3 linked regions of the Homo sapiens genome follow. The protein of the gene in region 1 interacts with the protein of each later gene in a biochemical or structural test. Each region holds a gene or a part of one and is shown on either strand. Other genes may lie near its edges.

Evidence for each region.
Region 2: the proteins of TGFBR3 (region 1) and TGFB3 interact in a biophysical measurement, tested with the Homo sapiens proteins (one study listed by IntAct).
Region 3: the proteins of TGFBR3 (region 1) and NRP1 form a complex in vitro, tested with the Homo sapiens proteins (one study listed by BioGRID).

Annotation. Positions count from the first base shown.
Region 1 is NC_000001.11:91,882,940-91,890,962, forward strand, and holds the start of TGFBR3 (transforming growth factor beta receptor type 3 isoform a precursor), read right to left. Parts: upstream 3,213-8,023; 5' UTR 2,939-3,212; intron 1-2,938. UniProt on the Homo sapiens protein: Cell surface receptor that regulates diverse cellular processes including cell proliferation, differentiation, migration, and apoptosis.
Region 2 is NC_000014.9:75,957,718-75,965,004, forward strand, and holds the end of TGFB3 (transforming growth factor beta-3 proprotein isoform 1 preproprotein), read right to left. Parts: intron 5,771-7,287; coding exon 5,599-5,770; coding exon of another isoform or gene 5,595-5,598; exon of another isoform or gene 5,344-5,594; intron 3,360-5,343; coding exon 3,206-3,359; intron 1,629-3,205; coding exon 1,470-1,628; 3' UTR 380-1,469; downstream 1-379. UniProt on the Homo sapiens protein: Transforming growth factor beta-3 proprotein: Precursor of the Latency-associated peptide (LAP) and Transforming growth factor beta-3 (TGF-beta-3) chains, which constitute the regulatory and active subunit of TGF-beta-3, respectively.
Region 3 is NC_000010.11:33,184,474-33,191,760, forward strand, and holds part of NRP1 (neuropilin-1 isoform a precursor), read right to left. Parts: intron 2,019-7,287; coding exon of another isoform or gene 2,016-2,018; coding exon 1,744-2,015; intron 1,252-1,743; coding exon 1,155-1,251; intron 1-1,154. UniProt on the Homo sapiens protein: Cell-surface receptor involved in the development of the cardiovascular system, in angiogenesis, in the formation of certain neuronal circuits and in organogenesis outside the nervous system. Mediates the chemorepulsant activity of semaphorins.

The sequences.
Region 1 (8,023 bases):
TTATTTAGGATTACTGATCCCCTATTGTCTTGCACTTAGAAGATGTTAATGAAAGATGATGACAGGATTGTGAACACACCAACCTCCCTGAGAACAAATTCATTATATTCAGTTTTCTACAAAACACAAATGAGGATCATTACAAAAGGATTCACAACAAATTCCTCTGGATTTCCATTTCTCCCAGGTAAGTTGAAATATTATTCAAACCACACAAAATTAGTTTACATACAAACTTCACTTTTTAAAGAGATGGGGGTCTCACTATGTTACCCAGGCTGGTCTCGAACTCCTTGGCCAAGTGATCCTCCTACCTCAGCCTCCCAAAGTGTTGGAATTACAGGTGTGAGCCACTGTGCCTGGCCTACACACCACTTAAGGAAACAAATTGAAAAAAAACTATATGTGTGTTTATCTATCTGTCCAGCCACCATGGAGTTCTTGACATATATTCAACATACAGGCCCTGTCCTCAAGGTCATTCTTAATCAGTTCAAATTAAATCTAGTCCTCCATTATAAACTCCAAAAGCAACTTAGTTATTTTGCTAGATATTTTGCCCTCCCCTTTCAAACTATATGTTTAATACTCTAAAAACGGGTTTATGCGCCTTATAGATATCAACAGTGTGTTATGCTCCCCCTATTGACTAATATTCAAAATAACAATGAACTCCCCACGGGTTGCCTTTGAAGTGCTGGGATTCAAAACTATGTTGGTGATTTTTATATTTAAAAACATGAGCTGAATCAACAGTTGTTAGGCAAAGCTGCCGTGTAACGGTCAGATTCCATCAAAACAGGAAAAATTAAAGTTGACAAATGTCAAACTGAAGGGCCAAAAAAAAAAAACGCTCAAGCCTTGAAACACTAAACAATGCAGAAATAAAGCCAAAAGCAAAGAACAGCAAGAAATAGAGCAACATCCTTTAACTGACACAATGGCATGAAATCAATTTCATGTTAATAGCCCTTAAGGGGGTAAGAATTATTTCCCTGCCTCCTGTGCCAACCCCAAGCTGTTTCCTAAGGAAGCCAAGTAATGGTGATCAACAATGTCTGGAGAATTAATAAAAGAAATTAAGAATAAAGATCCATGTTGGCCAGGCGTGGTGGCTCACACCTGTAATCCCAGCACTTTGGGAGGCCGAGGCAGGTGGATCACGAGGTCAAGAAATCGAGACCATCCTGGCCAACATGGTGAAACGCCGTCTCTACTAAAAATACAAAAGTTAGCTGGGCGTGGTAGCGCGCGCCTGTAGTCCCAGCTACTCTGGAGGCTGAGTCAGGAGAAACTCTTGAACCCGGGAGGTGGAGGTTGCAGTGAGCCGAGATCGCACCACTGCACTGCAGCCTGGGGACAGAGCGAGACTCTGTCACCAAAAAAAAAAAAAAATTTCCATGTTAATTAATACAAGTCAGAGTTCTATTTATAATTATTTGGGGCCAGTTTCAGAGGAACTTTAATTGGGCACCCTCATAAGTATGTAAAATCGCCTAAATTCATCACAGATACCTTATGTGTGTTTCAAGAGATATGCGTTCAGCTCAAATAGAAAGCTGAAAGATGGGAGAAGATGCATGGACTATGCACACAAATCTATGTACACACAAATCGGCCTGCACTTGCCGCTCTCCGCTGAGGAAGGAAGGTAGCTTTGGAGTCAGAACTAACAGAAAGTTATGTATGATCTTGGACAAGTAACTTAACCTCTAGTGTCTTATCTGTAAAATAGGGTTATTAATAGTGCTTTTCCCATAGAGATGCTGTGAGGATTAAGTGCACACAGTATGGGCTTAGAAAACGTTAGCTGTTATTATTATCCAAAAGAAACAACTGAGTTCACACTGAAGTAACTGTTTGCACTCTGCATTCAGGAAGAAGAAACGGTCTTGACGTGTGTTTTTACTACCTGTGGAGACTTCTCCCAAACCGCTCACTTCTTCGGAAGGACATAAAACTCAGAATACGCCTGGTTCCCCAGCACAGCCTGTCACTCCTACTATCCTCTGCCCTCGCCGCTCCTATCCTGCCACCGCAGGGCTAGCGGCAAGCAGCGCTAACCTCCGTGCGGTGCTTACTCGGTGCCAAGCACTGTTGTAGCACCTCACACACATTAAATCATTAGATGCTCACAGCAACTTTACGGGGCAAGTACTACTATCCTCACTTCACAGCTAGGGAAATGGAACGGTTTTCTTCTTCCAGCTTTTCGTGAGGACACCAAATCCACTAAGTTCTACTTTGCCAAGGTAATTCATGCTTGACACGTCGGCTCCTGACACTATGCGATTCTGCAAAGCGGGGCAAATGCCCTAATAAGATCAAGTCTGCAAGCAGATTCTTCTAGCGACAGTCCAAGATTTCCAAGTTTGTCCTAACCAAATGAATACAAGAAGAGAGCCTTCAAAATAAACCGGGGCGGGGGGGGGCCGAGCTGCAGCTTGCGGCTCAGCCCGCAAGGCACCCTGAGGGCGCGGCCAGCGGGGAACGCAAACCGCGTCCGTGCACGAGTCCGGGAGCCACAGCCTGGGCCACGGCAATTGACTGCGAACCCACAACAAACCATTCCCACCGAAGCTGTCACGCGCCCGGAGGGAAGTGGCCGCCGCGCCCCGCAGGGGTCAGAAGGACCCGCGGAGAGGAAGAGTGAGGGCGGGCGTGGAGAATTCCTCCCCAGCACTGCGCATCGCCGGGGGCACTGCCTGCCCCGTGCGGCCGCTGCCCACGCACCGCTGGCCACCGGTGCCTGCTCCCCGGAGGGTAAACACCGCCCCACCAGCGCCTCCCTCCCAAGGCCGGAGGTCCTGGCGGCTGGAGCGACCCTGGCCGGTAAGTAGGCACTGGCAGCCCGCGCCGCGCCGACGGGCACCCGCGCAGCCTGCAGAGCCCACAGCCCGGGCGGGCTGCAGCGCCGCGGGGCTGGGCCGGCACGTACCTCGGAGGCGGTGTGTCCAGCGGAGATCCACCCGCAGCAAGTTGGAGGAAAGCGGCGGCAAGTTTCCCCGCCCAGCGCTCGGCGGCGGCGAGCTCCGGCAGCTGCTGCGCCGCGGCAAAACTACGCCATCCGGACCCGCTGGGGACTCTCACCTCCTGCAGGGAGCTCCGGGAATCGCGCAGGGAAAGTGGCCGGGGCGCGAGAGCCGCCGACTGCCCTCCTTCACTCGCTGGGAAGAGGAAAGTGCCGCTCGGCGTCCCCGAAACCCTCGATTACCCCCATCAGGCCGACCCGGCGCACTCGCCCTCCCTCGCACACACGCGGGCGGGGACGGGCAGGACGCCACAGCAATCAGCGCGCGGGGGGAAGGGCGCTCCTCCGCCGGCCCCACCGGGGGCTCTCGGCCGCCCAGAAACTCCTCCTCCCGCCTCCCGCCTCCCGCCTCCTCTCTCCTCCCCCTTTGCCTCCGCGGCTGATGGATGAGCCCCGAATGCTGCTCGAGCCTGTGCTTCCCTTCGGGACGAGGAGGCCGAGAGAGAAGGGGCTAGGGGCGCGGCCGGGCTCAGCGTGCCCGGGTTGGGGCGGCCCCTGTCCTGGGGGAAGCGCGAGGGAGACGTGGGCACGAGCTGCGGGGACTCGCTCCCTCAAACGAGGTCCTTTGAACTTTCCAGGGCTCCCTGGAAGAGTTGGATTTTCATTTGGTTCCTTGGTCTTTATATAAAAGTTCTGAAACCTCAGATAATCTGATCACAGCCTCTTGCCCTCTCCCCAGCAGAGCTCCCCCATGCACACATTCATTCTGTCCCTGTGCTTTTTCCCAACCTCCGGTCCCGCTTGTTGTCACGCTCTGATGGTGGGCGCCGGCGGAGTCTTGCCTCTTCCCCTCCAGCAGCTGAGACTGCATTACCCAGCCGTTCCCCCTGCTAGCTAAATAAATTAATACAAATAATGGAGCTAGGTCAGCATTACCGGCGTTACCCGGAGGTGGGCGCGATATGAACGACAGTCTCGGCGGGGCAACGTCCTAAGTACCTGTGCCTGTGCGACGTCCTAAGTACCTGTGCCTGTGAAGTACACGCTGCAGAAGTTGAACTGCTGGCACCAGAACACCACTCTGATACTCTTGCTTACACCCAGTTTTTCTTATTAAAAAGTATACTTAAGTAACAGGACATTGTTTTACAAACAGGCAGGTGAAATGACCGTGGACTGACAGGTTTCAAAGACCAGACTTCCAGTCCTGACTACTGTGCGACCTTCCACAAATGGCTAACGGCTAATACCCGTCAAGGCTCAGTTCAAATGAAGGGCTTGGCCTAGAAGGCTTCTTCCAGTTCTAAAGGGCTATGGACCTATGCCTTTTTTTTTTTTTTTTTTTTTTTTTTTGAGATGGAGTCTCGCCCTGTCGCCCAGGCTGGAGTGCAGTGGCACAATCTCAATCTCAGCTCGCTACAACCTCCGCTTCTCAGGCTCAAGCGATTCTCCCACCTCAGCCTCCTGAGTAGCTGGGATTACTGACAAATGCCACCACGCCCAGCTAACTTTTTGTATTTTTTGTAGAGGGGGTTGGCAGGGCGGGGGTCTCACTTAGTTGCCCAGGCTGGTCTCAAACTCCTGAGCTCAAGAGATTCGCCTGCCTTGGCCTCCCAAAGTGCTGGGATTAGAGGCGTTAGCCGCTGCACCTGGCTCAATCCTAGGCTTTTAATATGTTGGAGAGTAGAATGAGGAGGCTTCTTATGACATGTTATTTGGAAAGTTATTGAGAGAACAGGAAATATTTCTCGTCCTCTTCCTCTTGTACCTATAGGCAGAGAATCCACCCAATTGCAGAATTGGAGATTCATTCACAAAGGTCAAATGTCATCAGTCACCTGAATTACTGCAAAAATCTCCTCACTGAACCATTTTTTTCCTTACCAATATTCATTGAGCACTGACTATGGGAGAGCCCTGAGTCAGGCATTGGGAATACAAGTAGGCATAATATTCTGAAGGAATAAACAGTCCAGATGGAGCTAGCCTCTGCTTTTATAAAGTCTAAGTTTAAGGCCTTAAGATTTCTCCTAGACTCAAATTAAACAGTATTTGATATGGTTTGGCTGTGTCCCCACCCAAATCTCATCTCGAATTGTAAGTCCCACAATCCCCATGTGTCCTAGGAGGAACCCAATGGGAGGTAATTGAATCTTGGGGATGAGTTTTTCCTGTGCTGTTCTCATGATAGTGAATAAGTCTCACGAGATCTGATGGCTTTAAAAACAGGAGTCTCCGTGTACCAGCTCTCTCTGCCTGCTGCCATCCACGTGATATGTGACTTGCTCCTCCTTACCTTCTGCCATGATTGTGAGGTCTCCCCAGCCATGTGGAACTGTAAGTCCAATAAACCTTTCCTTTGTAAATTGCCCAGTCTCGGGTATGTCTTTATCAGCAGCATGAAAACAGACTAATACAGTATTTATGCCTTGTTAACAAGTTTTAGTTTCAAGTACAGATGTGAACACTTGAACTAGGTGTGAATATTTAATCCCACATTTAAATGCATCGGCCAGGTGAGGTGGCTCATGCCTATAATCTCAGCAATTTGGGAAGCCGAGGTGGGTGGATCACTTGAGGTCAGGAGTTCTAGACCAGCCTGACCAACATGGTGAAACCCCATCTCAACTAAAATACAAAAATTAGCCAGGCATGGTGGCGGGCACCTGTAATCCCAGCTACTTGGGAGGCTGAGGCAAGAGAATCGTTTGAACCCAGGAGGCAGAGGTTGCAGTGAGCTGAGATGGTGCCATTGCACTCTAGCCTGGACAAGAGCAACACTCTGTCTCAAAAAAATAAAATTAAATTAAATGTATCAATCATGTTAAGGCCTTCTAAATAAAATGGCCTGGTAGATAATTTAGGAGTGTCTTGTCTTTAAAGAGTGATGAAGTGACTGGTCCCCGTAGAGCCAGATTCACAACAGTAACCATCAACATCTGAGCCAGCGTGGGTACTGAATTCTTTTTTGTTTGTTTGTTTTTGTTTTGAGACAGAGTCTCGCTCTGCTGCCGAGGCTGGAGTGCAGTGGCGCAATCTCAGCTCACTGCAACCTCTGCCTCCTGGGCTCAAGCAATTCTCCTGCCTCAGCCTCCTGAGTAGCTGGGATTGACAAGCACGCACCACCATGCCTGGCTAATTTTTGTATTTTTAGTAGAGACGGGGTTTCATACCATGTTGGCCAGGCTGCTCTCGAACTCCTGACCTCAAGTGATCCACCCGCCTTGGCCTCCCAAACTGCTGAGATTACAGGCATGAGCCACTGCGCCTGGCCATGGGTACTAAATTCTATACATATAAACACATTTACTTCTCACAGCCCTCTAAGAATATGTATAAATGAGGCCGATATACATGCCTTTATACAAACTGAGATCTTGTCCACGATTCAATCTCACATCCACCGACCTCAAAACCTGTCCACGATTCAATCTCACATCCACCGACCTCAAAACCTAAGTCCTTAACCACCAGGTTCTTCTACCTGTCATCAGAAGCTTTATAGACTGGCAAAATAAAAGGGCTCTTTTTTTTAATTCTGAGCTATTTAGTTTCAGTAGATGATATGGAAAAACACAAGAAATTACATCAGTATTTACAAAATTAACAATGTCTACAGAGATGTTTTCTCTTTAAATCTTTACAATATGATATTAAAAGCAGAAATCCAGATACCTCAAGCATAGACGAAAGGTTTAAAATAAACTTGAATTTTTGGTTCCTGAGCAAAGCTCTATAAAAAAGGGTTCCCCTACCTCTTTTCTTTCTTTCTTTCTTTTTTGAGACGGAGTTTCCCTCTTGTTGCCCAGACTAGAGTGCAGCAGCGCGATCTCAGCTCACTGCAACCCCCACCCCCACCTCCCAGGTTCAAGTGATTCTCATGCCTCAGCCTCTCAAGTAGCTGGGATTACCAGCACCCACCACCATGCCTGGTTGATATTTGTATTTTCAGTAGAGACAGGGTTTTGCCATAACTCCTGACCTCAAGTGATCCACCCACCTTGGCCTCCCACAGTGTTGGGATTACAGGCGTGAGCTGCCGTGCCCAGTTGCCCAACCTCTTATTAATGGCAATATTAACTGATTTCTAAGGGAATGGATGCTCCCTTTCACTAATTTCTCATGGAGAACTGCATTCAAGCTACAGTATTTGTTACTGTAAGATACCAGCTTTCTTTTGGTCCAAAGTGGTTTCTTGGTCATTTGTTTGGAATTGTTTCAAACAGGATTGTAAGCAGGGGGGTGAAATTGAGGTGCATTACTTGCATTAAAAATGTTTGCCAGCAGAGTTTCAGTGATTTACTGAGGCTGTTTTTCATACAAGGAACCACCCCTCCTGTAGGTGTGGACTCACATGTTGACAGTGACTCAGATTTAGTGGCATGTCTCCAGATTCTGTTGATTAGCAGTTCACAGTCTGCTAATCAGACTTTCTTTAATCAGATAAAGTCTAAAAGACTTTATCATTAGAAAAATCATTTGGTTGTTTCTCTATAATCTTTTTTTTTTTTTTTTTTTTTTTTTTTGAGACACAGTTTCCGTCTTGTTGCCCAGGCCGGAGTGCAGTGGCGCCATCTTGGCTCACTGCAACCTCCACCTCCTGGGTTCAAGTGATTCTTCTGCCTCAGCTTCCCGAGTAGCTGGGACTAAAGGCACACGCCACCACGCCCTGCTAATTTTTGTATTTTTAGTAGAGACAAGGTTTCACCATATTGGCCAGGCTGGTCTCAAACTCCTGACCTCGTGATCCACCTGCCTCAGCCTCCCAAGGTGCTGGGATTACAGGCATGAGCTACTGTGCCCAGCTATTATCCTCATTTTACAGATTAGGAAATGATGCACAGAGAGGTTATGTAACTTGCCCAAGGTCACACAACCAGCAAGTGGCAGAGTCAGGTGGCCTGGCTACAGAATCCGTTCATGCTCTGAACCTCCACTTTGTGCTACAGGTGAAAGACACCTTCTACTCATAAAAAGAGAGTCTCATATTTCCTTTTTTTTTTTTGAAACGGAGTCTTGCACTGTCACCCAGGCTAGAGTGCAGTGGTGCAG
Region 2 (7,287 bases), on another chromosome or scaffold:
GGGGAGATTTTCGAAAACAGTGATGTTGGTAATTTATAGTTAGTAAATAAACCATGTTTCCATATGCAAGGATTCACACCAGGGGATCCTGCCCACAGGTATCTGGAGGTCAAATTCGTATGTGCTTTCTGCCAATCTGAGCCACTGCCTCTGTGTCTCTGAGAATAATATACTCTGCAAGAAGGAAAGACGCACAAGCAATAGTGCAGTCTTCTTAGCAGGCGGAAGTCAGCACGGTGTGCCCCCTGTGTAAGGGGAGTTGCGCTAAGCAATGTGTTTGGTGATTGACAGATTCTCTGCCCCAGATTCTGGTTACCTCTGATTAGTAGATGCGGACATGGAATTAAGGGTAATTGAAGGATATTTATCGAGTCAGACATACACCTTAGAATAAGGCTTTTACTGTTCTAGAAACAATATTCCAGAAGATGAAATCATCCAGGATGCCCCAAAAATATTTATTTATACAAAGATTTTGAGAGTAATATTCATACTTGTCTTTATACCTCAGTCTATGCGTCTGGGGCCAAGTCACTGTGTGGCACATGTGCAGCTTCCCCGAATGCCTCACATGTTGTAGCACCTGCTTCCAGGAACACCAAATGAACACAGGGTCTTGGAGGGGAAGTGGGGGAAGAACCCATAATGCCCCAAGGCTGCATGGAACCACAATCCAGAAATGTGCATCCTGACCTGGAAGGCGTCTAACCAAGTGTCCAAGGGGAAATATGATCGAGGGAGAGGTGAGAGGAGGGACCCAGAGGGCAGACAGGAGAGGGTTGATTTCCACCCTTTCTTCTGCGTTCAGCATATCCAAAAGGCCCAATACAGTTGATGGGCCAGGAACTGCATGACCTGGATTTTCTCCCTGTAGTGACCCACGATGTTAATTGATGTAGAGGACAGTTTGCAAAAGTAATAGATTTGCCCTTAATCCCAGACAGTATGAGATACAATTCTGGGACTTTGTCTTCGTAACCTGTCTTTAAAAAAAAAAAAAAAATGCTTGCCTTGTATAACATAATCCAGATTCCCTAGAGCAGATGTGGTACAGCAATGAGCAAATCCAACCTCAGATCTGAAGTGTCTTCCAGTCTGGCCCTGACCCAGCCATTCTCTGCCCTTCCTTCTCCCTTTAGGGTAGCCCAAATCCCATTGCCACACAACATCTCAACTTACCATCCCTTTCCTCTATCCCCATCCCCTCTGTCTGCGTCACAGAAAGTCTGTGTGTTCTGAAGAGTTCAGCCTTCCTCTAACCAAACCCACACTTTCTTTACCACCGTGATTCTCAGAGCCAGCAAGAAAGAAATGTTCCAAAAGGAAACCTCCATCTCAGCCATTTGCCCGGAGCCGAAGGTTGTGGGCTCCAGGCCTCTCAGTGAGGTTTGTTGCTTGTGTGTTTCCCGAGGAGCGGGCAGTCAGGCAGTGGTGGTTCTCTCTCCCCTCTCTCTGTCGCACGTGGGGTCTCAGCTACATTTACAAGACTTCACCACCATGTTGGAGAGCTGCTCCACTTTGGGGGTCCTCCCAACATAGTACAGGATGGTCAGGGGCTCCAGGTCCTGGGGCACGCAGCAAGGCGAGGCAGATGCTTCAGGGTTCAGAGTGTTGTACAGTCCCAGCACCTGGGAAGGGACATGTCAGTGAGAGGTTGGAAGGCCAAGTCTCAGGCCTGGAACCCAGGAAGTCGCCCAGTTCCAGGGGCAGTCCCAGAAGCTGAGCAAGTGCTAGAATGGCCACGGGTGCTCTTTAAGAGGAACTGTTGGGGGCCGGGTGCAGTGGCTCACAGCTGTAGTCCCAGGACTTGGGAGGCAGAGGCAGGCAGATCACTTCAGGTCAGGAGTTTGAGACCAGCCTGGCCAGCATGGTGAAACCCCATCTCTACTAAAAATACAAAAAAATTAGCTGGCTGTGGTGGCAGGCGCCTGTAATCCCAGCTACTTGGGAGGCTGAGGTGGGAGGATCACCTGAATCCAGGAAGCAGAGGTTGCAGTAAGCAGAAATAGTGCCACCGCACTCCAGCCTGAGCCACAGAGTGAGTCTGTCTCAAAAAAAAGAAAAAAAAAAAAACTGTTGGAACCTGGTTTGGGTGAGTGAGTAGTTGTGTAGTTGCTGTTCATCCACAATGACAGAAGCAGAACAACTGCACTTGTTTGGGGTGATGAGTTGAAGCATATGACAGTTACTACACTGATAACGAATTATCTTGGCTTTTTTTTTTTTTTTTTTTTTTTTTTTTTGAGTCAGAGTCTCACTCTTTCACCCAGGCTGAAGTGCAGTGGTGCAATCTTGGCTCACTGCAACTTCCGCCTCCTGGGTTCAAGCGATTCTCCTGCCTCAGCCTCCCAAGTAGCTGGGATTACAAGCGCGTGCCACCACACCCGGCTAATTTTTTACATTTTTGGTAGAGACAGGGTTTCACCATGTTGGCCAGGCTGGTCTCGAACTCCTGACCTTGTGATCCACCCGCCTTGGCCTCCCAGAGTGCTGGGATTACAGGCGTGAGCCACCGTGCCCGGCCTATCTTGGCTTTTAAGAAAACACTTACATTGCTCTTCCTAGCTGGAACTGATCACTTCGGTGAGAAATGTTCTCACAAAACATTGCCTTGAGCCATTTAGTAAGTGCAGCGTGCAGGGCCCCAGACAGGATGCAGAAACAATGAGCTAGAAGGAAACATGCTTCACAAATTACTGCCCTATTTTTGATTCCCCTCAAGGGAAAGACAGACTAGTTTCAGGGGTTGTGGACTCTCGGCTATCTCACTTTCTGTTCCTAGCATTTCAAATTAGCTTCTTGTCCATCCTTGTTGTTGTCTTTCAGAGTAAGTTTTCTACATTCGAGAGGCTGGAATGATCAGAGTTCTGATAGAAGCCTTTCTACTTCAGTGTTCCTTGCCAGCCACATGCACATATCTCTGACATAGGGTAACACGTGGCAGTTAATTAATTTCTACGGTACAGAGAGCTTTGGACAAAGCAAATTAAAAAGCTGGTTGAAACTATGGTAGGAATTTAAAAGGGCAGAATGTGACTGAGTAGAACTGAGTCAGGGTGCCAAGATCAGAACCTTCACCAGAGGAATTTTACTCACCCCAGACCATCATTTGCTCACTCAACATTCAATCCTTCACTCATTCTTTTTAACAAGTGGTCTGGTCGGTCAGCCCCAGTGCCTCAGATGGCATGAGCCTGCTCCATACCGTGCTGTGGGTTGTGTCTGCACTGCGGAGGTATGGGCAAGGGCCTGAGCAGAAGTTGGCATAGTAGCCCTTAGGTTCATGGACCCACTTCCAGCCCAGATCCTGTCGGAAGTCAATGTAGAGGGGGCGCACACAGCAGTTCTCCTCCAAGTTGCTACAACAAAAAACATTTATAGAAAATCAACTTAAAACCACCAATAAAAGAAACTTCATGAATGCTCTCATATTCTCCCTTGGAGTCCTTTCATGCCATCATAGGTGGCTCTGATCAATGGAATCCCAGGTTCAAGGGCATGGGGCAGAAGAAACCAGAAAGGCACATTCATGTGTTAAAGACCAGGATCCCAAGGATGTAAGAAACAGAGATAAATGCTGCATGAGGAAGAGTAAAGAGGCAAAGGTGGCCCTGCACCCTTTTCTATCACAATACAAAGCAGTGCTATGAAGCGCTCCACATAAAACCAAGCACTGAATGTTATTAGCCAACTCAGCTTTGTTGAGGTTGGTTTTATTTTTACCCTCCTAATGTGCACCCAGACAGAAATCAATTCTAAGTTTATGCAGCTTGACTACTATAGTAGGTGACTGCTGAGACTCAATCCAAAGGCCATTTAGCCAAATAAGGCATATCCTTCTATTAGAACCGTGGTTCAACAGATCACCCAAATGTGATTATCAGGCCCCTTCAATTCTGTTGCCTACAGAGATCATTTGGCAATAATACCGCTTGCCAAGTGGACAGCTAGCCTCTGCTTTAATATCTGCTGAGACTTAGAACTTGCTACTTCCAAAGGCAGCTATTAGCCAAAATCTGGCTTCTTGTGGGTTCCAAGGGTGAACCATGGCAGACACCATTGGTTATCTATTCAATAACCATTCCTAACTCCCTTCTCCCTTGTGACATCCCATTACAGAGTCGAAAACACCAGATGCTCCTTTTCCTGTCCTCCCTTGAGAGTAGCGGTGGTCATGTGACCCAGTAATGACCCATCAGACAAGGAGAAGTATGCAGGGGGTAAGGGCAAGTTCTGGCAAAGATATTCGATTATTTATAAAAGTGACAGATGGAAGAAGAAAGCTTCTGGCTCTTCCCCTTCCCTCATTCCTTCTTGTCTTAAATGTGGACAAGGTGCCTGAAGCCCTAGCAATCACTTGTGACCATAAGGAAAAGGATGAAAAGCCAACATACTAAGCATGGCAGACTGGAAAGAGAGAAAGCCTGAGTCTTCGGTGGCATCATTAAGCAGCCAGCCCACCCTAACCCTGCTGCTACAGGCCTCTTGTGAACAAGAAATCACTATGATTAAAGTCACTGGCCAAGATCATTCGTTCCTAACTGATTCGTTCCTAACTGATAACTGATTCGTTCCTAACTGATTTGTTCCTAACTGATGGAATAAATAAATCTACATGCCAGCCTTTGTGGCAACTACCTTGCCTCTCCTATACCTTGCTGTTGAGCTGTTCCCCCAACTGAACATCCCTAGTTTCCCAAGCCCAACCATCCTCATAAGACATGGTTTCCAGATCTAAATATTTCCCAATTCGTTCTCCCCAGCTTCATTTCGGCATCCTCTGAGGCCAGATGGACTCACTCACTCATGCTCCTTCCTTTACCTGCAGTGCTTCCCCTCCTGGATCCCTTCATCCCCAAACCTCATCCTTGAAGCCTCTGCTCAAATTCCACACCCTTCTGAAGCCTTTCCTGTGTCCATAGGTGAACTCATTGCTCCCAGTTAAAGCACTTAATCCTTCGGACCCTCTCATGGGCGTGATCATCTTCTCCCTTTTAGTAGTTGGCATGCATACTTTATCCTCCCTTTATAAATGAGCAGTGAAACTGCTCCTGAGTAAGAGAAGCTGGGTCTTTTCTATCTCTCTATTGTGGCTACCCAGTAATTTCTGAATTCATTTGTTAATTTCTCTAGCTCCAACTTTCCGTTCAAATGGAGACCATTCTATTTGCCTCCATCCAGTAGCATCCTTGGACCCTTCATAGGGAACTAACTGAGCACTTCTTTAATGGAAACTCCTACATTAATCTCACACATACACTCTACAAGTGCTTAAAACATGGAAATCATGGAGAGGCTTTGACCAAGCCTCTCCAATCCAAACTATTTTAGCAACACTCCTCCTCACAGAGTTTTCCTCATTTACTTCAGCCAGCTCCTTCCAGAGTTAGCCTATGGAAAAACAGTGGGACTCCCAGGAAAACAGAAAGAGATTTCACAGAGAAAATCTCTGTGAGAGATTTTCAGTCTTCTTCCTGGAGATGTTTGTGAATAGCATCAGGGACCCTCTGTTGAGTGTGGCTTGGCTCTGGGGCCTGACCTAGCCATTGGGCAGTAGGCAGGCAGTAGATGTTGGTTCCCATGTGGGCCCAGTCTCACCGGAAGCAGTAATTGGTGTCCAAAGCCCGCTTCTTCCTCTGACCCCCCTGGCCCGGGTTGTCGAGCCGGTGTGGGGGAATCATCATGAGGATTAGATGAGGGTTGTGGTGATCCTTCTGCTTCTTGAGGCGCCCCAGATCTCCACGGCCATGGTCATCCTCATTGTCCACGCCTGAAGAAGGGAAGGAAAGTGACAATCTCCTGTCTGAAGAGAGCAGAGCCCTTGGAGGCTGCCTCCTCCACACGCCCCATCACTGCCCAGGAGGAGGGGCAGTGCAGTCTGCGAGGGAGGTGTGGGGGACAAGTGCAGCTTAATTCTGATGTCCAGGTGCAGAAAGGGGAAGAGCAGATGGAGAAGCCAGTATCAAAAGAACTCATTATTATTGTAAGGATGCCCACTGAAAGATGCCCCGTGTTCAGATCCCCATACCCTTGTATAGAAATCTTCCAAGGGGCAGAAAGCCCTTGCTGAGATTCCTAGGAATCTTCATGGACCTATGAAGCATCCCTGTTACTAAGTGGGTACCTAACACATATCTCCGGGTTGTCGGCTTGTTTATTTGTTTGTTTGTTTGTTTTGAGACAGAGTCTCGCTCTGTTGGCCAGGCTGGAGTGCAGTGGCCCCATCTTGGCTCACTGCAACCTCTGCCTCCGGGGTTCAAGAGATTCTCCTGCCTCAGCCTCCCAAGTAGCTGGGATTACAGGTGCATGCCACCATGCCCAGCTATTTTTGTATTTTTAGTAGAGACAGGGTTTCACCATGTTGGCCAGGCTGGTCTCGAACTCCTGACCTCAAGTGATCCGCCCACCTCGGCCTCCCAGAGTGCTAAGATTACAGGTGTGAGCCACTGCACCCAGCCCTGGATTGTCACTTTAGATTCTAGACTTAGAATCTTGGGGTGTGAGTTTCCTCTTAAAATGTGAATGGACCAAGATAACGCAGAAGTCCTACCAAAAATTTAAGGTGTCACAACTTAAGATAGCCTGAATGGGAGCCAAAGAAACAAGACTGTATAATTGTTAACATTCACATTGCACTTAGAGTCTTTGAAGTGTTTTCACTATAAAATTCAGATGAGATAATGAAGCATATGATAAATAGCAAATAAGCTCTGGAAAGAAAATCTAAATTCATCAACCCGTTTCATCTGAAAAAAAAGGAAAAGACTGGAGACTGACTTAGAAAGAGTCTCAACTAAATGGAGATCGATTTTGCGAAGGACAGCTGCCAACTGTTGTCCATCCTCACTGAGGACAGGAACATGAGGAATTAATTTACATAGCTACAGGAGTGGCTCGGGTCTCAGGAAGGGGCACCAGATCTGTAAGATAAATGAGAGACCTGGATCACAAATCCCTTTTTCTGAAAATCTTTATGAACAAGATAAGTATTCACTGAAATGGGAAGGTTTCATCCTAAGCTGGCCTGTAGGTAAGGACTCCAAAGGTCCTCTGGGCTCTAAGGTTCTGTGGTTACAGTGTCAAATCTTTGGCTTTAAGAAAAGGCTGTAAAATAGAGCCCATGTGGGGTAAGATCACTGTCCAGCGCTGAGCCAAAAGAGGCCTGCACCTTTTCCCAGACAAGCCTCTGACCTCAGGCGTTCCGCAGTTACCCAAAATGGGAATATGAAAGGAAAAGAGAACTTCCCTGAACTCCAGAGATCATCAAGGCTGAGTTCCTTGCAAACA
Region 3 (7,287 bases), on another chromosome or scaffold:
AAACATCACCATCATCACTCTCACTTTGGAATGGAGAAGTGAAGAAATCACAGACACTGTGTTACTACATGAAATACACATTTTTACAGCAGTGTAGATATGGATGTGGGTAATTTGTAAAGGAGTTGCAACTAAACTATTAAGCCTTATCATTCTTGTGAAGATTTGCTAAATAGTGCAGCACTAAGCAGATTCCCTTTAATAGTATGAAGAAGCAAGCCTTTATTCATTGCTCCTTTCTTTTTGCCCAATTTCTTCGATGGATCCTATCAAATTATTGCCGCTTTAGGGATTATATATATTCAATATATTATATAATAAAAGCTTTGTAAGTTGCTGAAGTGACCAAAACCCCCATTACAGCCAACAGACCTCCTTTGTCTTAAATTGGCCCAATAGGCTTATCCCATTTTGTTATAATTAACATCCTATTATATAATGATGTATAACAAAAGTTTCAATGTAGCAAATGGAGCTGAAGACTAATTACTGTGCTATTACACTGCCATTAGTAATGCTATTTGTAATTATATATCAAGAACTAGGGAATATGAATTGGTTTTCTATGTCTTACATCCACCTAGTACAAGACCCATAAAGACCAACTCTGAAATACTAGGCCAAGTCTCTGAATCTCATTGAAGTCCTTTAAGTCATTTCAGATATTTTAAAAGTCAGAAACATCTACTTGTGATAAAGCAAAGAATTATGGCTTCTATGGTTCATTAACAATGCATTCTTAATTAAACTTATTCTGATCAAAGTTTTCAGAGGCCTGCTGTTTTGTTTATACACCCAGATATTTGGAATTATCCAGATGTCTGACTTTCCACTGTTCATCAAAATGTTTCGGTATGGCATCTATAGCTTGTAAGCTGGGTCTTCTTAGCTATCATCTTTGGATTCTGCATTATTTGTGGAGTTTTATAGGTATCAAGCAGCCATTATGAAGGACCTAGGGTAGGTGACGGGGCAGACACAGGTAAATTGGGCTGATTGTATGCCCTGTTGCACCAGAATACGCATTTCCTATGATGTGCCGAGAGGCCACACCGAAATTCTAGGTAGAAATGAGCAAAACAAAGACCATCATATTGGCAAGAGTCTTGCCCTGGGCAAGCACTCCATTGGTTTCTACAGCAGCTCATACTTACTTGCACAATCTTCTTGTGAAATGTGGTTATTAATACTAATGTCATCCACAGCAATCCCACCAAGGTTTCCTTTTCCGATTTCGCCCTCGAAAATCACCTAACAAAATAAGATCATTTTCACAGTATTGAAATGCTCATCTCACATGGCAGTGTTTACAAATGCTTGTTCAGCTCCAGCTACGGCACATAAATTAAATTCATCAGATTCAGCGTAACACAGACTTCACTCATCAATCCACATTAGCTGCCTGGTGATGGTATGCACCTTCTCCTTACACTCTCTTCTTATAATACAAACTTTAAAACGGGAGAAAGCAGCAAACAAAAGGAATGATACATTGTGAAAGCCCAGAAATAGATGACACGGAAGCCCTTTGTGTTCCTTCTCAGCAAATTGGTTCTATTCCTGCAATCTAGGAGACTGTGAAATCTGCTATTAAGGTGGTTATCATTGCAGCAATATCTCAGGGTTGGGAAACACTGGAAATAATTTCGGAATAATTCCCATGTCTCATTTGCACAGCCTCCAACATATCATCTCAGCATTCCTGCAGCCACTGCCCTCCCCAGCCTTGGGAAGAGGTCATACCTGATAAAGTTTCAGAGACTTGTGGAGCAAGACACGCCCTTCCTTCCAGTGGTCACCTTGGTGTCCAATGGCCATCCAGACCAGCTGATCGTACTCCTCTGGCTTCTGGTAGCGCAGTTTGACCCTGAGTGTGCCGACGTGGGACCCAGACATGTGATACCAGAAGGTCATGCAGTGGGCAGAGTTCTGGGAATAAACCACAGGGCTCACCAGGCGAGCCACTTTGCCCTTCTGATTTTCGTCAGCTTGGGAATAGATGAAGTTGCCATCTCCTGCTGTGACAAAGAACTGTGTTAGGGAGAGTGGCCAGGATTACCACACTTTTATCTCTCTTCTTTCAAGTCTCACTAATCAAAAGCTTCCTGCGCTGAGCACCAAGAACCCAAATACGTAGTGGAAAGGGATAAGTGTGCACACTTGGGGACCTCATGGGCACCTAAGGCCCTGCTCTCAGCTCTTGCAAAATGGACATTTGATTAGGGGAAGGCTGAGTGGCACTAATTAGGATACTACTTATAATGGAATGCATTTTCATATGGACACATGCTATGCCTCAAGCTGGCATTTGCACCATCACAAGCAAACTGAAAGCAAAGTCTGTGCATAGACTGGACTGAAAACTCCTGGCTCTTAGAGAAACCTTATTTATTTATTTATTTATTATGTTAGACACTCCTGTTGCCCAGGTTGGGATGCAGTGGTGTGATCATAGCTCATTGCAGCCTCAAACTCCTTGGTTCAAGTGATCATCCTGCCTCAGCATTCTGAGTAGCTATGACTACGGGCCCATGCCACCATGCTCAGCTAGTTCTTAAAAAGATTAATTTTTTTTTTTAAGTAGAGATAGAATCTTGCTATGTTGCCCAGGCTAGTCTCAAACTCCTGGCCTCAAGCAATCCTCCCACCTTGGCCTCCCAAAATGCTGGGATTACAGGCATGATCCACCACGCTGGGCCCAAGAAACCCTGTTTTTATGCAACTTTAAGATCACACTGCGGCACCCATGTGAACACATGCATTAAATGAAATCATTGAGATGTATTTTTATTTATCATTTGAGCAGCAGGACTTCTGATTAATGAAATTTCTGTCACTATGACTGCTTGATAATCATAAACCTGTAGTTTTTCCTAATAATGTAGTAATCTTTTTTTTTATACTTTTCAAGTTCAGATTATTTTTCCCGTAGTTTGTTTTCATGGTTTTCGAATTCCTTAAACACACCTGAGAGCTTGAATCTCTACTGTGAGCCCTGCTTCTATTTGATGTGGGCTTCTGGCTCAAGGAGAGGCAAGGTTGCCTTGTTGAGGTTCATTAGAACGTGCCATTTTGGCAACTTAGACACTTGCTGAACTGCGAGGACTTTCTCTTGGCTTCGCTTTTAATGACCCCCACTGGGAACATTTCCTCCTGCCACCACCTGGTCAACACAGCTCATGTTTCACTGTTGGCTCTGCAAATAGAAATCATCTTCTCTAACACCTCACCTGATTAAGTGTGAATCTGCTGCTCGGGCCTCAGTGGGCAGCAAGAGGTTGTGTTTGTTGCCCAAGAGACTTGTGTGTTTGCAAGGTGCTTTCTCACTGTGCACACGTGGGCACATACTCCTTTCCGCTTGCCTGTGTCAACAGTGTCCAGGTGGATGTGGACGTGTTCATGGGCAGCTTCCTTTCCTTACCTGGTTGCTTATGTGAGAGCCCGCCCTTCTTCAAACCAACGGGTGGAATCATAAAGGAAGGGTGTTCACAAATGGCAGCTCTAGCAGTAGGTTTGATACTGCAGGATGAATGTCCCTCTCGCTCTCTGACCTTGCAGGTGTCCTCTGTGACTGAGCTGATCCATTCACACTTAGGATTTGTTTTGCCCACTAATTTATCAAGATGTGATTACTTGTCTGTGGGATGGTGCCATTTCACTGTGATGAATCCACCACGATGGGAAAAAAATACACCCATCGTGCCTCTGTCCCCTCAATCTTACGGAAAAAAGACTGAAATTGGCAATGCTGCTGCCATGTCTTAATCCCACTTATTGAGCTCATTGCTCAAAGTTTATTGAGGCTAGTCAGAGAATGGGTGTTAGAAAGAAGGAGAGAAGTGGACGTAGGTAGAGGGATGCTCTCCCATAGGACATCCTCACTCAACTGCACCATAATCACTTCCCATCCACAACTAGACAGTAAGTTCCTCAAGCACAGAGACCCCCTCCTTCATACCTGTATTTCCAGTGCCCAACACAGCACCTGCCATGTAACAGGGCTTCTCAAATGATGCCTGTTCAGTGCAGTAGGAGAGATGCCAGATTTCAAGAATCCTCTGCCTGAGGAAGTTCTTATGGTCCCTGCCTTCTCACACTGTGGTCTTTAAATATGCTCGTGTGGCCGGGCGCGGTGGTCCACGCCTGTAATCCCAGCACTTTGGGAAGCCGAGGTGGCTGAATCACCTGAGGTCAGGAGTCCGAGACCAGCCTGGCCAACATGACAAAACCATGTCTCTACCAAAAATACAAAAATTAGCCGGGCGTGGTGGCGGGCATCTGTAGTAGCTCCTACATAGCTGTAGTCCTAAGTAGCTGGGACTACAGCTACTTAGGAGGCTGAGACAGGAGAATCGCTTGAACCTGGGAGGTGGAGGATGCAGTGAGCCAAGATCACACCACTGCACTCCAACCTAGGCAACAGAGACCCTGTCTTAAATATATATATATATATATATATATATAAATTAAAACTGCTCGTGTTGCTCCTCTGCTTAGAATTCTTCAGAGGCTGCTCACTGCCTGCAGCCTATCCACACTTCTTCACAAAGAGGGAGCGCTGGCAGCCCCTCCAATGGACCTTTTATCCACCCCCATCCTGTTTTCCTCCTGGTCACTGCATCACCAACTTAAGGTATAGTATAAAGAACCAGCAGTGTCCTGCCAAACACACACACACACACACTCACTCACAATAAACACCCGATCCACAAACTTCTGCTCTACTCAGTGAAAATGGAAGGAATCCAATTTCATCAATTTCCTTGTCAATCTCATTAGGCAAGGAGGTAGTTCCCAAAGTCATGCACACTCTGCCTCTATCTAACTGCTTCCCATACAAAAACCTGTGCAAAGCACACCAAACATGAGCCAGTAAAATAAGCCTAGCTCAGCCGGTGTCTGAGACAGGGCTGCTTTCCTTGACCCCTCTTCCGTCATCTTTTACATGGTCCATTGTCACTGGCCTCTGCCATTGGAAGCCCTCACTGAACTGCACTGTGGTTGCTTCCCAACCATGATCAGACTGCGAGTTCCTCAAGCGTAGGGACCTCTTCCTTTACACGTGTATTTCCAGTGCCCAAGTCAGCATCTGCCCTGTAACAGAGCTTCTCAAATACCACTTGTTCACTGAACCAGGGAGAGATGCCAGACTTCAGGAATCCTCTGAAAGGAGGTACCTAGTTCCATTCTTTGAGGTCAAATGCAGAAAACCAAGCAAATGGGATGCCTTTCGATAAGCAGCAGGATATTTTACCTAGCTAGTGTTCATTTTCTTTTTAAACAACCCAATGTCTGGCTTGCAAAGTTTCACCAAATAATATTATAAAAAAAGCACCATCTACTCTCTAATGTCAGTCTATGCGCGGGAGCTTCGTGAAGGGCTCTTTTCATCTGGATCTTTTTCCCGTTAACAAGTAGTTCCTGCCTTTCAGATGTCGGGCTCACCCATCTCTCTACACAAATGATTGTGTTTCTAGAACTGCAGGGGCTCTTTCTAGTCGGAGCTGACCTGGCACAACTGCCAAGTAAATCTGGGTGGCTGAGAGAACAAAAGAGTCAAACCCTTCTGAAGGAATCGCACTTCTCAGCTGTTAATCTACGACAAGCTCTCCTTCTCTGATACTCTAACACATAAAGCACTGATATTTTCCCTTTCAAGGGTTTTATCACAGTTCTGGGTCAGGAACTCTGTCTTCATTTTCTCAATTAGCACTTTACTTCTGCAAGCCTTTTAGCTTTTGTCTCTGGCTAACATAGCTTTTAACCTCCTTTGAATGTCAGATCCTACTGAGCCATTTTGCTTCACTTTGCATCAATTTTTCCACCATTACTGCCTTCATTTTGGCTAATTGCATTTAGTTAATTTGATGCCATTTATATGTACAGTGCCATTTACAGTCAAAGTATTTTAAGTTTTCTAAAACTGCCTGTCTTAAGATTCAATTGAAAGTGTCTCAGATTTGAAGGAGTCCAATTTTATCCAATTTCCTTGTCATTCTCATTAGGCAAGGAGGTGGCTGTGGTGGAAGGAGGCCTATTCAACCTATTTAATGGTTATATTCACTGGGAGAAAAGTGAACCACAAAATGGGAAAGGCATGAAGTACCCTTGGCCCAGCCTTCAGTCCACTGACTCACTCACCCAAAGAGCCAAGATGGGGAGAATTTAATGAGATTTCCTAGCATCAGCAAATGCCCCCCTGGGGTACCTTTTGGGAAGCCACTACTTGAGCAAGCAGTGCTCTGTAAGTATTTCTGAGTGGGTGCAGAAGTTCATGGATTGGGCGTTTGTTGTGAGTGTGTATATGTGTGTGTGTGTATGTGTGTGTGTGTGCATGTGTGTTGGGCCAGACATGGCTGGTTATTTCTTTATTTTTAATTTTTATTTTTTTCTCTTTAGAGACAGGTTCTAATTCTGTCACCCAGGCTGGAGTGCAATGGTGTGATCATAGGTCACTGCAGCCTTGAACTCCTAGGCTCAAAGGATCCTAAAACAGACTCTGAGTAGCTGGGACTACAAGTGTGCGCCCTTATGCCTGGCTGATTTTAAAAAAAAAATTTATTTTGTAGTGTCAGTATCTTGCTATGTTGCCCAGGCTGGTCTCTAACTCTCTAACTCAACTGATTCTCCTGTTCTGGCCTCCCAAAGTGCTGGGATTACAGGTGTGAGCCACCACGTCCAGTCTGCTGGTCCTTTATACTGTACTTCAAGTTGGGCAGTGAAATGACTAGGTGGGTAGCAGGAAGGGGGCAGATAATAGAGTTCACTGGAGAAGCTGCCAGCTTTTTCTGTCCCCCAACCCATTCCTCCCCCACCAATTAATCTTAGGAAGAAAGTAAGGCAGGAGGTGGTGGGAGGGTTGTGATCTAGGGCATGGTGAGGTTTCTACCTGCTCAAAGGAAATACACTACACTTTCAATCTTTCCCCAGTGAATAAGAATTCCACACCGTCTTTCCCCACCTCCCCTTCAAGGGTCGGGAGAGAGCAAGCATTGTGAATTGTTTCTTTAGTTGTAAAATAAACGAGGGGACATAATATATGCTTGGACTTGTTTGAAAATAATTCAGAGTCAGGGATGACAGACATAAATTAAGTTTCCTATGATCTGATAATTGTTGAAGCAGGGTCGTGCACATAGAGAATTCATTCTACTATTTCTTTTCCATTTGTGAATATGTTTGAAATTGCCCAAAATAAGAAGTTCAGAAAAAGTATAAGATGAGGCTAGTTGCGGTGCCTCACACCTATAATCCCAGCACTTTGGGAAGCTGAGGTGGGTGGATCAC